2 linked regions of the Homo sapiens genome follow. The protein of the gene in region 1 purifies or fractionates together with the protein of each later gene. This does not show direct contact. Each region holds a gene or a part of one and is shown on either strand. Other genes may lie near its edges.

Region 1 (7,022 bases):
GTACACAGTAGCCACTTAAGGAGTATCAATTGAATGAATGTGTGGTGCTTACAGAATTGGCTGCTACAAACGGGCATCTCCCAGAATAATTTTTACAGATGGAGTCTTGCTGTTGCCCAGGCTAAAGTGCAGTGGTGTGATCATGGCCGACTGCAGCCTTGACCTCCTGTGCTCAAGGGATCCTCCTGCCTCAGCCTCCCAAAGTGCTGGATTACAGGTGTGAGCCACTGCATCCAGCCAAGATTATCTTCATAATCCAGAAAAATGGAAATTGCTCCAAGATGCTTTAGAAGGCTGTGCATTTTCCTCCTTTGAGGAAAGAAAATTACGGACTCCCTTTGCTGCACGGCAGGCACCTGCCCCATTGCCTCAGGAGCATCTGTAAGCTGAAGGCATTCCATCTCCAACCTTGGAGTTGATCTCCACCTCCACCCTTAACCCCATCCTTAGAGACCCCACCTCCACAGACACACACAGAAGGCTAGTGAGGGTAATTTTAATAAAGCATTAGCTGGCTGTTGCTTCTTGGGGTTAAAGATCAAAGAGGAAGGGCATCACATCTGTAAGAAAAGGAGAGAGTTCAGGAGTTTATACTTCACAATTGCTGTTTCCTAGGCCTGGGATGCTCTCTCATAGCAGGTCATCTGCTTCTTTCACTCAAGGCTCAAATGCTGCCTCTTCTCTGAAGCCTCCCTGCACTGCTCCAGGGAAAGTAGAAGTACTCTTTGTACATAACCTCTATTAACTGTGCTTCTCATGTTGTGTGCTCACTATTGCCTAGACTGCTGGTCTTGGTAAGGCCAGTTGCCCCTTAGTTGTTTGCCCATGGATTCCTGGCACATCACGCCCCACACTGGTGGGGGAGGTCTCACCTCAGGCAGGCATCACCTGAGGGTCTCAGATCACTGTTAATCTCCCTGTTTCCTATAGAAGATGCATTCCCCCACCCCCACGGTGTGACCCAGGCTTCCACACTTGGCCTTGGGTCAGGATCCTCAGGTCTCTTCCCCTTGGGCCCACGCACAACAAGTCTTCACACCTGGCTGGCTCATGCACTGTTGGATACTTTCTAGCCGAGTGGAAGCCAAGGCGCGGGCCTCCTCCGCAAAGCGGCGGTGTCCCTCCTCGGTCAACTTCCAGAGGCAAGATCGAGGCCGTGTGCTGGCCCCGCCCTGCATGCTGACAGGCACTTTCTCAAAGCTGTCTCGAAAACAGAGATTGTGACGGACAGTATTCTTCCAGCCTTCCGGGGCCGTCCGGAAAAAGGGGAAGTGCTTTCTATGGACAGGGAGGAGAGGTAAGGAAAGGCATGTTATGTCTGGGGAATGCCCTTCTCTGGGGCATGTTCTACCCAGGGGCCAGGGGCTTTAGCCCTTCTCTCCAGGGGGATAGTAGCAAGTTGGCCTGGAGTTGCTCTTTGCTAACTGAGCACGTGGCAAAGCATCCACGTGGTGCGTGGCTCACCTGAACCCTCCCTCCCTCTGAGGGCCCAGGGCTTGGACCACAGCATGAACAAAGCAGAATCAGGCCAAGCAGCTCCTGTAAGAGGAATCTTGGTTGAGGACGGACACCACTTGAAAATTCCTGTCCTGAGACATTAGGCACTTCTCCTAACACTGGGAAAGGGCCCAAGAAACTCCCTTCCTCACCCTCCTGTGAGCAGGACTATCTGAGCTAAATGGAAAATCCTTCTCAACTGGGTTCTCTGCACCCCTGGGGGTGCAGGGAGCTGTGCCAGGCAGTCCAGTCCTAGCAGAAGCAGGTGGGAACCGTTGGGGAAACCTGACTTTAGACTGGCTGATCTTCAGAGGATGGTGGGGAAACTGTTACCTGACCCAAGTGAATGTATGTTTTAAAGGAGAACTATACCCAAAGAACACTGAAAACTTGTTAAAAAGAAAAAAAAAACTAAAGCCATAAAATGTGGGCACAATGTGGGCACAAATGCACCTGGGAAAAGGGAACTGGGAACATACTTGTCCTCTCAGACCCAGATAGGGAAACCAGGTCAGCAACCCAGGGCCTGGGATGGATTGGAAGGCATCAGCCCGGGGCCCTGGCCCCCACTTCCCCCTCCTCGCAGGGCCCCCGGCACATACCGAGTGAAACTGTAGATCTGTTGCACGTTGAGGCCACAGGGGGAACTGTTTCTTAATGCCAGGGCAATTAGGTGGAAGTAATTGAGAGGGGGCCGGGACCAGAGCCTCCCCGCCTGGCTGCTGGCTTGCCGAAGCCTCCGACTCTGGAGGGGGGCCCTTTTGTGAGGGGATGGGAGAGCCATAGAGGAGCTGTCTTCCTGGTCCTCAGCCTCCTCCTCTTCTGTGAGCTAGAGGAGCACAGAGTAGGAACTGGTCCTGACTCCTCAGCCTCTACTCCAGGGTGCAGTGGCAGGAAGGGGGGGTGGTCTAAGGCCACCATTTGGGCTTCTCCCCAACCCAAGCATGTAGGTAATTTCTGAACCCATTCACCTTTTGCTATGGCTAAGAGAGCAGAACTGTAATGGCTCTTCCCCATGCCCCTCGCCTACTGCCCAAGTCCCACTCCCATCCCCAAAAATGCATACCTCCCAGGTGCTGGGGGAAAAGGCAAACCGCTTCCGAGGGGGAGACCGCTTGCTGGAGGACTGGGACAGTGATTCCACCCCTGCGGCCTCTGAGCAGCTGGCATCTTCCTCCTTCTGGGGTGGCTGAGAGGAGGGGAGTGTGCTTGTCAGGTCCTCCCTCTTCCTACGTCCTGAGACCTCCAGCTTTCCAGGGGGATACACAATGTTGGGATTTACCCACATCCAGAGGTTGGGCTCATAATCTGGACCTGTGCAGAACAAAAGATTGTGTGCCACAGCCCACTGGCTTTGGGTGCCCCTGGTCTCCAGCCCAGGCCACAGAAACAGGTCAGAGAACTCAATACGTACCATCCTTATCAGGGTTGGGTTTTTTCTCTAGGGGTAATTTTGGTGGCTTAACAATTCGGAGTTTATACCTGGCAACTGGCAAAAAGAAAGACAGAGAGAGTCAAAACATCCTAGAATATCCCTTTGTGACCCTAGGATCCTAGGCCTTAAGGCTTCTCTGGGAGAAGGTTGTGGGCCCTGCCTTGGGAGTTAACATCACATTCTACTTCTACGGGTTTTCCCTTTACCTCTCTGACCTTCTCATTCCCCTCTGCATTCTTTTCTTCTCACTCTACGTATACTATCCCTGAATGATCTCATGCATGTCCGTGGCTTCAGTTAACATCTATAAAAAAATGTAGAGCTCTCAAATCTTCACCTCTAGCCTAGCATTCTGTGCTAGCCCTTAAGGAGAACTACCTACTGGATGTCTTTACTTGGGTAGCCCACAGGCACTTCAAACGCACTTCTAAAACTGAATTCCATCTTCTTGCTCTTCCTCCTGTATTCTTGTATTTTTTTTGAGACAGGGTCTTGCTCTGTTGCACAGGCTGGAGTGCAGTGGTGTGCTCAAGAGATTCTCCCACCTCAGTCTCCCAGGTAGCTGGAACTACAGGTACATGCCACTGCACCCCACTAATTTTTGTATTTTTTTTTTTTCAGATGGAGTCTCGCTCTGTCGCCCAGGCTGGAGTGTAGTGGCGCGATCTTGGCTCACTGCAACCTCTGCCTCCCAGGTTCAAGTGATTCTCCTGCCTCAGCCTCCCAAGAAGCTGGGACTACAAGCGCACGCCACCACACCCGGCTAATTTTTGTATTTTTTAGTAGAGACGTGGTTTCACCATATTGGCCAGGCTGGTGTCGAACTCCTGACTCATGATCTGCCTGCCTCACCCTCCCAAAGTGCTGGGATTACAGGCTTGAGCCACCGCGCCCAGCCCAATTTTTGTATTTTTTGTATAGATGAGGGTCTATGTTGCCTGGGCTGGTCTCGAACCCCTGGGTTCAAGCAATCCTCCTGCTTCGGGCTCCCAAAGTGTTGGGATTACGGGCGTGAGCTACCATGCCTGGCCTTCCTGTATTCTTTGTCTTAGCAAGTGGCACCACCATTAATGGTTGTTCAGGACAAAAACTATTTTTGCCCCCTCACTGTCCCTATGAGTGTCATTATATTACAGATGAATCTAGGCTTTTGTTTGAGAAATGATATACTTATCGGAGAGCTCAGTAATTAGAGAGGATGCCTATTATGTTGCTAATATTCAACATAGTATTCAAAAAAGGAAAAAGTAGCAAAAGATAGAAAAATTGGGGTTTTTTTGGAGACAGGGTCTTGCTTGGTTGCCCATGCTGGAGTGCAGTGGTGTGACACCGGCTCACTGCAATCTCCACCTCCCAACTCAAGCAATCTTCCCATCTCAGCTCTTAAATAAAGAACTTAAAATACTTGAACAAAGACTTATAATACATACTATTAAGATGCCAGTTACCCTCAAAATGAATCTGTAAGTTTTATGCACATATTATAGCACAAAAATTAAAGTTTGGCCAGGTGCGGTGGCCCACACCTGTAATCCCAGCACTTTGGGAGGCCGAGGCAGGTGGATCACTTGAGGTCAGGAGTTTGAGACCAGCCTGGCCAACAAGGTGAAACCCCATCTCTACTAAAAGTACAAAAAATTAGCCGGGCTTGGTGGTGTGTACCTGTAGTCCCAGCTACTTGGGAGGCTGAGGCAGGAGAATCACTTGAACCTGGGAGGCAGAAGTTGCAGTGAGCTGAGATCGTGCCACTACACTCCAGCCTAGGTGACACAGCAAGACTCTGTCTCAAAAAAAAGTTCTAACATAGTAAAAATCACCATAAGCAAAAAACAAATAGACAAACAAACAAAATAGCAAAACTTCAATCCAAATTTCTCAGTTCTCTGATACATAGAGAGCTCCTACAAATCAATATGTAAAAGGTCAACACAAACTTAGAAATGGACAAATGATATGAATCAGCATTCACAAGGAGGGGATAACTGAATGGCTAACGAGATGATCAGCATTATTAATAATACGAAAAACACTGTAAGATAATGAGATAATCAAATTGACTGGAATTATAAAGATAATACCAAGTGTTGAGAAACATGCAAAGAGACAGAATCTCTTATTTTACTGCAGTTCTGTGTATCAACTGGAGCAGCCCTTGTTAAGAGCAATCAGGCAGGACCACAATTTACTCGACCTTACTGTCTGCTCCTGGATGTATATATTCAAGTTAATACAGGAACTTATATACTAATCAATCTCCATTGTTACTACCATCTACTGACCTCCTGGTTTAGCTGTCACTCTCCAACACTACTCCTGCCTTAAATCTTGGCTGCTGGCCAGGTGCAGCGGCTCATGCCTGTAATCCCAGCACTTTAAGAGGCTTAGGCAGGCGGATTGCTTGGGCCCAGGAGTTTGAAATCAGCCTGGGCAACATGGTGAAACCCCATCTCTATAAAAAATACAAAGATAATAATCTAGCCGAGTGTGGTGGCGTGAGCCTGTAGTCCCAGCTACTCAGGAGGCTGAAGTGGGAGGATGGCTTGAGCGGGAAAAGGGAGGTTGCAGTGAGCCAAGCTTACGCTATTGCACTCCAGCTTGGGCAACAAAGCCAGACCTTGCTTCAAAAACAAAAACATGATCTTTGCTATTTATTGAACTCTTCTCCAGCGAGTTTGACTTCTACTCTACTGTGGACACTCCCTCAGGCATAACCTAAACCAACAACTGCAACCTCTCCGTAACCTCATTTATGCACCACATAAAAACGCACCACCTCGTGTCTTTCTGGCTAACTCCCTCAACCCCAACTATGATCCCACTGAGGTCACCAGTCCACTGAATTATGGTTTTGGCGCACTCGTTTGGCAGAGGTGGATTTAGTCAGGGTTGTGGTTTGGCCAACAAAGTGCTCCAAAGCCACAGATGATCCAGGGAACCTGCGTAATATCTGACCATGGGATTCAAGTTAGTTAAATAAGGGTGGACATATCAAGTGATTGAAACAGTGAAAAGGTGATAGGATCAATGGACTGGTGATCTCATTGCGACCCAAGGATAGCACCTTTGTATGTCTGTGTCTCTCTTTGGCACAGATCCCCCATGCTTTTTCAAGGATGTTGTTCCACAAATCTTCCCCTCTCTTTCCTGTGTCACTAATTTTTTGTCTTTGTTGGGTCATTCTCATCAGCATGCAAACATGCTGTTAATTCTCCCATTTTAGGGACCAGGTGCAGTGGCTCATGCTTGTAATCTCAGCCTGCTTTGGAAAGCTGAGGCAGGAGGATCACTTGAGCCGAGGAGTTCAAGGCTGCTCAAGGCTGCTCAAGGCTGCTCAAGACTGCAGTGAGCTGTGCTGGTGCCACTGCAGTCCAGCCTGGGCACCAGATAGAGACCCTGTCTCTAAAAAAAAAAAAAAGAAGAAAGAAAAAGAAAAAGATTATCCCATCTTATTTCCTGTTGAGGCATAACACATTGCCTCTACTTCCCCTCCTTCTACTCTTAAACCCCCTTCAGTCAGGTTTTTTGTTCTACCACTTACTAAAACCACTAACCAGGGACCTCTGCTTTGTTAAGTCCAATCATCACTTACATTCCACTCATCCAACCCCTCCCTCCTTGAAAGGCTTTTTCCACTTGGTTTCCAGGATACCACAGACGCCCTAGTTTTGATTCTCAATAGTCTTTTTTGCTAGTTATCTCTCTTCTCTCCAATCTCTTTACAATGGACTGCCCCCAGGGCTCATTCTTGTTCCTCCTCTATTCTTACTCCTTAAGTTCCACCCATATACCAAAAGACCCAAAATTTACATCTGCAGTCCCCACTTCTCTCCAGAACTCCAGGCTCATGTATCCAACTGCAGACTCAATGCTTCTACTTGGATGTCTAAGGATCTCCAGCTCAGCATATCCAGAACAGAATTCCTGATCTTCCTTCCTAAACCTGTCTCCCACTCAGTACAAGGCAACTCTATCCTTCCACTAGGTCAAAACACTTTGAAGGCTCATACTCAATTGTCTGTCTTATACGCCATATCCAATCCATCAGCATAGCCAGCTGGTTCTCCCTGCTACTACCCTGGCCCAATCTACC
Region 2 (6,855 bases), on another chromosome or scaffold:
AAACTCCCTGAAGATGAAAAAACTGAGAAACGAAAAATCACTTGGCTGAAAACAGAATATCCAGAATCTTATTTTTGTCTTCCTGTTCAGTTAAAAAAATCTGCATACTGACACGTGACCCTCTGAACCCAAAGCTTCCTCCTGAGCTGGGAGCCCCTTGCATTTGGGCCCACAGAGGGGCCTGGTCCTCCTGAGGACCTGCCTGCGGCGGGCACTGCAGGGACCGCCGCTCAGACCCTGGCCTACAACATGGAGCAGGCACTCAGCTCCTGGGGAGGGGGCACTGCAGGATCCATCCTGTGCCTAGATGACCTGCCTGGGGCCTCTGCACCGCAGGCTCTACGCCCACCTGACTGTGCCCTGCCTGAAGGCAGTCTTGGGGTGCTGAGCCCCAAAGGGCATCAGGGCAGGGTGAGCTCCACACTCACCATCGTCAGCCCCATTGTGGGGGTCCACGTCTTCCTTCATCTCCTCTTTCATCTCCTCTTCTATCATCACTTTTCCTGTGGAGGAGACAGCTGACGCTCACCGAAAACCCACGGTGGTGGCCGACGCTGGGGGATGGTCAGGCCAGGGACTGCTCCGACGCTTGCTGCCCACACAGGCCTCAGCTTCCGTCCAGCCACTGCTCTCAAACAAAGTCCTCTCCAATCCCGGAGGTTCCAAGACCACCCAAGCACAGGTAGGGCGGGGTCTGCGCTGGACCCTCACACCTCCCTGGAGGCCCGGGGTCCTCACCCTCACCTCCCTGCCCTTGGCCAGGGTCTGGCCTTTTCTGAATCCCAAGCCCAACCTTTCCCGAGCCTCACCTTCTCGGACCTCCTGAATGATCTCTTCTGGAAGGACGAAGTTCCTCTCTGGATTCGGGAATGGAAGAATCTCAGACTCATGCTGATATCAAATAGAGAGTTTTGTTTAAGAAACAAGGGTGAAGATGCAGTTTCAAGAAGTCACTAGAGCCGTGTAAGAGCCACTTGGGGAGAGGCCAATGAGCACACATCACTGTGTTGGAGGCTGCGGCGGGCGGGGCAAGGGCAAAGGGCATTTCTTCTTTTTGTGAACAGCGCCTGCCACAGCTGGGCTTTCCAGACAGACCCAGGGAGGGCAGAACCAGCGGCAGCAGATGCAGGAGTCAGGAAGACCCACCGGGGCCAGCATCACTAAGGCGGGCCCTGAGGACCGGGCAGCCCTGGTGACACACACCTGTGGGCTCCGCCTGCCCAGCACGGCCTGCAGTCTCACCATGAGACTGCGTTCCCCAAGGCGGCATGCAGAGGGCACAGTGACAGCCCTGGGGAAAGGCCGCAGGCACCTCGAGTTCTCATCCACGTGGCAGGAGCCCATGGACACCGAGGGTGTCGGTTGGGAGCGCCACAGGCACAGAACCAGGCAAAGAAGAAGAGAGTGCTTGCCAGGCACTGCCCTCCTGAGGTCGCACAGACCAGAGGGAGAGACCTATGTCATACTGATGGCCGGTGTGGCCCTGAGTCCAACGTGGCTGGCACAGACTCTCCACCAGCACAGGTCCCCACTCCTCCTGGTCACCTGACCCCTGACCCCCACCCCACTCTCCAAGTACACCACCTTCTTTGAGCTCCTGGACCCACCACCTCCTGCTGCCACAGGGCCTGGAACACCCACCTGTCTCTTCTGGCCACCCTGCTTACCTAGTTAACCCGCTCGCCCGTCACACAGTGCCAGCTCCAAGCTCTGCGAGGACTGGAACTCTACTTGTCTGACTCCCACAGAAGTCACCAAATTCACCTTGGTGTGACTCAGATAGGGTCACCCTCTGCCTAAAGCACTTCGGGGGCCTCCCAGGAGGCTGACAATGGCCTAAGGGCCCGGGACTCTGCATCCTTCCCTCCCTCCCCAGGGTCTCAGCTGGAGACTCTGGCCCAGCACCCAGTCTAAAGCAGAGCCCCTGAAAAGCTAGCCAGCTGCTAGCACTGTGTTTGTGCTTTCCATGACAGGCTCTGGAGCCCCGGGATGTCCTCCTTAAGGACGAGCCTCACTGCAGGGGTCTCTGCCCAGGGGACCCCAGCAGGCACGGAGGGGCCTCTGCCCAGCTCAGGCTGACCCTGAGAGCTCACTGCAGACCCCAGCAGGCATGGAGGGGCCTCTACTCTGCCCAGCAGACCCCAGCAGACATGGAGGGGCCTCTGCCCAGCTCAGGCTGACTCTCAGAGAGCGGTGTGCGGGTTCGTGCCCCCATCGGGCGGCACAGGGAGGGCGGTTGGGCTCACCAGCGCCTGCATGTCGTACATGGTGCTCAGATGGTCCCAGATGACCTTGGATGGGACCTGCCGCCCGATGTTCTGGCTGAACTTGTCCCGAATACAAATCATGTGGAAGTGTCGGTTCACACCTGAGGGGAGGAGGGGCGGCGGGATAACCGGTGAGCGGTGAGGAGAAAGGGGATGGAGGGGACGGGCTGCCCTGGGGACTGGAGGGGCAAGGGTGGCTGCGGAGAGATGGGGAGGGCCAGGGTGTGGAGGGGCTGTGGGGGGGCAGGGCTGGGTGGTGTGTGTGGGAGGGGGTGGGCTGTCCCGGGGCGGGGGTGGGGGTGGGGCACTGCGGGCTGGGACCTCGCGGTCTCACGGGGGTAGGGGTCGTGGGCGGGGTCCGGGGCGGGGTCCGAAGGGCGCGTGGGAGGGGGCGGGGGTCCCGGGACGGGTGTGGCGGCGGTGTCACGGCCCGGGCTCGGCGGGGAGCGTGGGGGCGAGGGTGTCGCGAGCGCAGGCCCCGCCCCGCCCCGCCGGTTGCCCGCCCCGCCCCCACGCGCGTCCGCAGCCTGGGCGCTCACCGACGGGCTTGTGGCCCAGCATGGCGTGGAAGAGGCACACCTCCACCTCGGGGCTCCACACCACTGTCTCCTCCGCCGGGCTGGTGGCCGCCTCCCCCGGGCCCTTGTCGCCTGCGGCGCCCCCGCCGCCCACCTCGGCCTCTCCCATGGCCGCGGCCCGGCCGAGCAAGGAGCCCCCGGCGGGAGCAGGCGCGGCCACGAGCTCCGCGCAGGCGCACTCGGGGGCGGGCGCGCGCTCCGCCGGGTACGCGCTCGGGCTCACGCGCCGGCGTCGGCGCAGGCGCAGCCGAGGTCTCGGGTCCCTTCCCGCCGGGGACTCCGCCCTGCTCCGCCCCGCGCGGGGGTTCTTAAAACGTGTTCCTCTTTAAAGCACAGTAAGAAATACACTGCACCCAAACAAAAAAGTCTGTGCTTCAAAGGAAACCATCAGAAAAGTGAAAAGACGACCCACAGATGAGAGAAAATATTTGCAAATCCTATATCTGATAATGAACTTCCTTGTAGAAGGTATAAATAATTCTTATAACTCGATAATAAAAAGACAATCTAACTATAAAACGGCTAAGGATTTGGATACACATTTTTCCAAAGAAGATGTACAGATGGGCCGGGCGCGGTGGCTCACGCCTGTAATCCCAGCACTTTGGGGGGCCGAGGCGGGCGGATCACCTGAGGTCAGGAGTTCGAGACAAGCCTGGCCAACATCGTATAACCCCGTCTCTACTAAAAATACAAAAAAAGTAGCCGGGCGTAGTGGCGGGCGCCTGTAATCCCAGTTACTCGGGAGGCTGAGGCAGGAGAATCGCTTGAACCCGGGAGGCAGTGAGCCGAGATCGCGCCATTGCAATCCAGCCTGGGCAACAAGAGCGAAACTCCGACTCGAAAAAAAAAAAAAGATGTACAGATATGGCTAATGAGCACCATCGGTCACGCGAAACTAGAATCAGCCCGCGTGGGGACCCCCTGCCCCGCCGAGACCGCCACAACCACGCGGCCGGGGTGACGAGTGCTGCGAGGGTCAGGGCTCGGGACCCTCGTGCGGTCGTGCTGTGCGGTCAGATGGGCCGCTGCTGCGAAAGACAGTCTGGCCGTTCCTTCAACGATGGAACCGTCTCCCTAGGAAGCAGCAGCTCCGTGGCGGGCGCCCGCGGCAGTGGAACAAGACACAGGTTCAGGCTGGGACCCGCAGCCGCGAGGCAAGCGCCGCCCCCAACCCGGGGCTGAACCTGCGAGGGGCGCCCGGAGCGCGGGCACCCGCACGGCGCAGCCGCGTTCAGCCTAAAAGCAGCGAGCGCGGACTGCGGCAGCGTGGGTGCGGGCTGAGACGAAAGTCAGAGAATTCAGACACGAAAATACACAGCATGGGAATCCATTCACAGGAAGAGCCAGAACTGGCAACTCCATAGGAATAGAAAGTAGATGCACGGTTGCCGGGGACGGGGGAGGGGGAGGGAAACGCGAGTCACTGCGGATGGGGACCGGCTTCTTTTTTGTTTGTTTTTGAGGCAGAGTCTCGCTCTGTTGCCCGGGCTGGGGTGCAATGGCACGATCTCGCCTCACTGCAACCTCTGCCTCTTGGGTTCAAGCGATTCTACTGCCTCAGACTCCCGGGTAGCTGGGACTACAGGCGCTCACCACGGCCGGCTAATTTTTGTATTTTTAGTAGAGACGCGGTTTCACTATGTTGGCCAGGCTGGTCTCGAACTCTTGACCTCAGGTGATCCTTCCTCCTCGGCCTCTCAAAGTGCTGGGATTACAGGCTTGAGCCACCGCGCCCGGCCGGGCCCAGCTTCATTTTAAGGAGGTGAAATGCTCTGGAATTAGATAGTGGCCACGGTTGCTCGCAACAAAACCCCACCGAATCGTGCGCTTTAAGCGGGTGAACTTAACGGTCTCAATAAAGATGTTAAGGAAAAAACAAAACCAGAAACCCCACAATTACTGCAGGCATAGGGCTCGCTGCCCGGGTCTGGGTGCGGGACGGAGGGGCTCACGCCCGCCCCCAGAGTCCAGCGCCTGCTGGGAGAAAGGGCAAGTAGGGGGTCCGGCCCTGCCGGCCTTGACCGCCTGCCTCCGACTCCCGGCCGCCGCGCAGCCCAAGCTCTGGGGAAGCGTTAACCGCGGGTCGCTGCGGAGGCCCCACCGCGGGGCGGGGCCGGGGCCGGACGGTGAAGAGGGGGCGAGATCAGGGCGGGGCCTAGGCTGGGGCCGGGCGGGGAAGCGCTCGGGAGGGCGGCTCGGGGGCGGGTCAGGGGCGGGGCCGCCAGGTCAAAACGCATCCATGACGAGCTTAAGGCGGCCTCCAATCAAGGCCGCCGCGGCCTCCGGCTCCGCCCGCTCCGCCTCTGCCTCCGCCTCCGCCTCCGCCCTGCCCTCACGGGCTTCTCTCCGCCCCATTCCCTCTCGGCCACGCCCACCACGGCCCACTGGCCAGGGAGCCGCTACGCAGATGTTTTCGCCTCTGCGGGTGTAGGCTCCGGGTCGGGCTTCCGGGTCCCTTTCCTGGCTCTGGCGCCTTCCAGCTGTGTGACCGGGCGAGGCCCTGAGCCTCTTGAGGGTTCAGTGCCCTCCTCCGTACAATGGGCCAACAACAGCCCCTTCCCTGGGGATCTCGGTGAGGGTTGGTTGCTCTGCAGGGTGCCCTGGGCCTGTGCCAGCGCGCTCAGGCATCCTGGTGACCAACCACAGCTGGCACTGGTGAACGCAGCCTCTTAGCCCAGGCAGGCTCTGGTCAGCCTCACCTGCTGGGACCGCTGAGTGGTCCAAGAGCTGGCTTGGCTGACTGGGACCTGGGCCTCAGCTTCCCCATCTGTGCAGGGGGCCGCTGGTGATACCGGTCCCTGCCATGCCCTGGTGGAGATATGGCCCAGTGAGACTTCGTGAGGGGTCTAGGCCACTGCTGTCACGTGGTACGTCTTCTACCCTGGCCCCTAGGTGGCCCTGGCCTCAGCCTTGCTCTAAAGAGGAATGAAGCCCAGCCCACAGCCCCTTAGCACAGATACGCTCGGGAGACGGGACCCTCACCGTTACTCATCTCCTTACTGTTCCCTGGACACCTTGGGGTCCCTGCGCCTCTCCACCCGTCCCTGCCAGGTACTCTCCTCCTTCAGTCTGGAGCGCCTCCTCCCTTGGGGGTCCCCTGTGCCTATTGAGAAAAGATGGCATAAAAGCGTGAGACAGGAGCCCGGACCAGGAGACCCGAGGGTGCTGAGCCCCACATTGGGCCGGGTCCACATGGAGACACACGCTTGGCTCATCCCAGCCGGGGCTGTCTGCCTGCTCCAGTGGGAACCTGGGCAGGGGTACTGTCTCCAGGGCTCTATGCTGGGCGGTCGTCATGAAATACCTGCTTTCCCCACACGCCCCCTCCTTTCTGAGGCAGGTGCCGCTGTCACGCCTGCTTTGAGGGGAGGAGTCAGAGATGAGTAGAGTGGGGAACTGCCTGGGTTGAGGGCAGAGCCGGGAATCAACCCTCAGAAGCCTGGCTCCAGCCGACCCCTGACCAACCTCCCTTCTTGGCCTGCTCTAGTCCCTGTGGACCCTCACCTGGGCTCCCCTTGCAAATCACCCTGCAGCCCCCTGGGGTGCAAATGCCTGCCCCCACCCCTTTGCCTGTCTCTCTCCTGCGCAGCCTTCACTCTCAGCTCCAAGGTCACCGCCCCAGCTGTGAGGGTCCCATTTGGTCTCTGTGGCCACACACCTGTGTTTCTCACTCAATAAGTGCTTTGTGGGATACACTTTGCACACTTGTCATTGTGAATCACGGATGATAATTTGTTCAACGTGTGCCTCCCCTGCCAGGCTATCAGCTGGCTCCAGGGGGCCAGGGCTGGGAATGGCGTGGCACCACTGTCCCCCACCTCTCAGGCAAGGCCAACACACAGCAGGTGGACAGTGACCATTTGTGGACTGGCTACACAACCTACTGACCCATTCCCTCCCTTACGGGGATGGAATGAATGATCCTCACTCTTTGATCCCTGTTGCTCAAATTTCCTTCAAAAGATGGATGTGGCTTCCCAAATATCTTGATCCCAGGAACAGAGGAC

What was found.
Region 2: the proteins of FOXR1 (region 1) and MRGBP purify together in Homo sapiens (affinity purification with mass spectrometry; 4 studies listed by BioGRID and IntAct, with this or other methods). This does not show direct contact.

What each region holds. Positions count from the first base shown.
Region 1 is NC_000011.10:118,974,746-118,981,767, reverse strand, and holds the end of FOXR1 (forkhead box protein R1), read right to left. Parts: intron 2,987-7,022; coding exon 2,912-2,986; intron 2,812-2,911; coding exon 2,564-2,811; intron 2,327-2,563; coding exon 2,100-2,326; intron 1,279-2,099; coding exon 1,040-1,278; coding exon of another isoform or gene 996-1,039; exon of another isoform or gene 912-995; intron 561-911; coding exon 532-560; 3' UTR 481-531; downstream 1-480. UniProt on the Homo sapiens protein: Transcription factor which acts as both an activator and a repressor.
Region 2 is NC_000020.11:62,792,623-62,799,477, reverse strand, and holds the start of MRGBP (MRG/MORF4L-binding protein), read right to left. Parts: upstream 3,006-6,855; 5' UTR 2,955-3,005; coding exon 2,807-2,954; intron 2,369-2,806; coding exon 2,247-2,368; intron 892-2,246; coding exon 810-891; intron 626-809; exon of another isoform or gene 504-625; coding exon 429-503; intron 23-428; coding exon 1-22.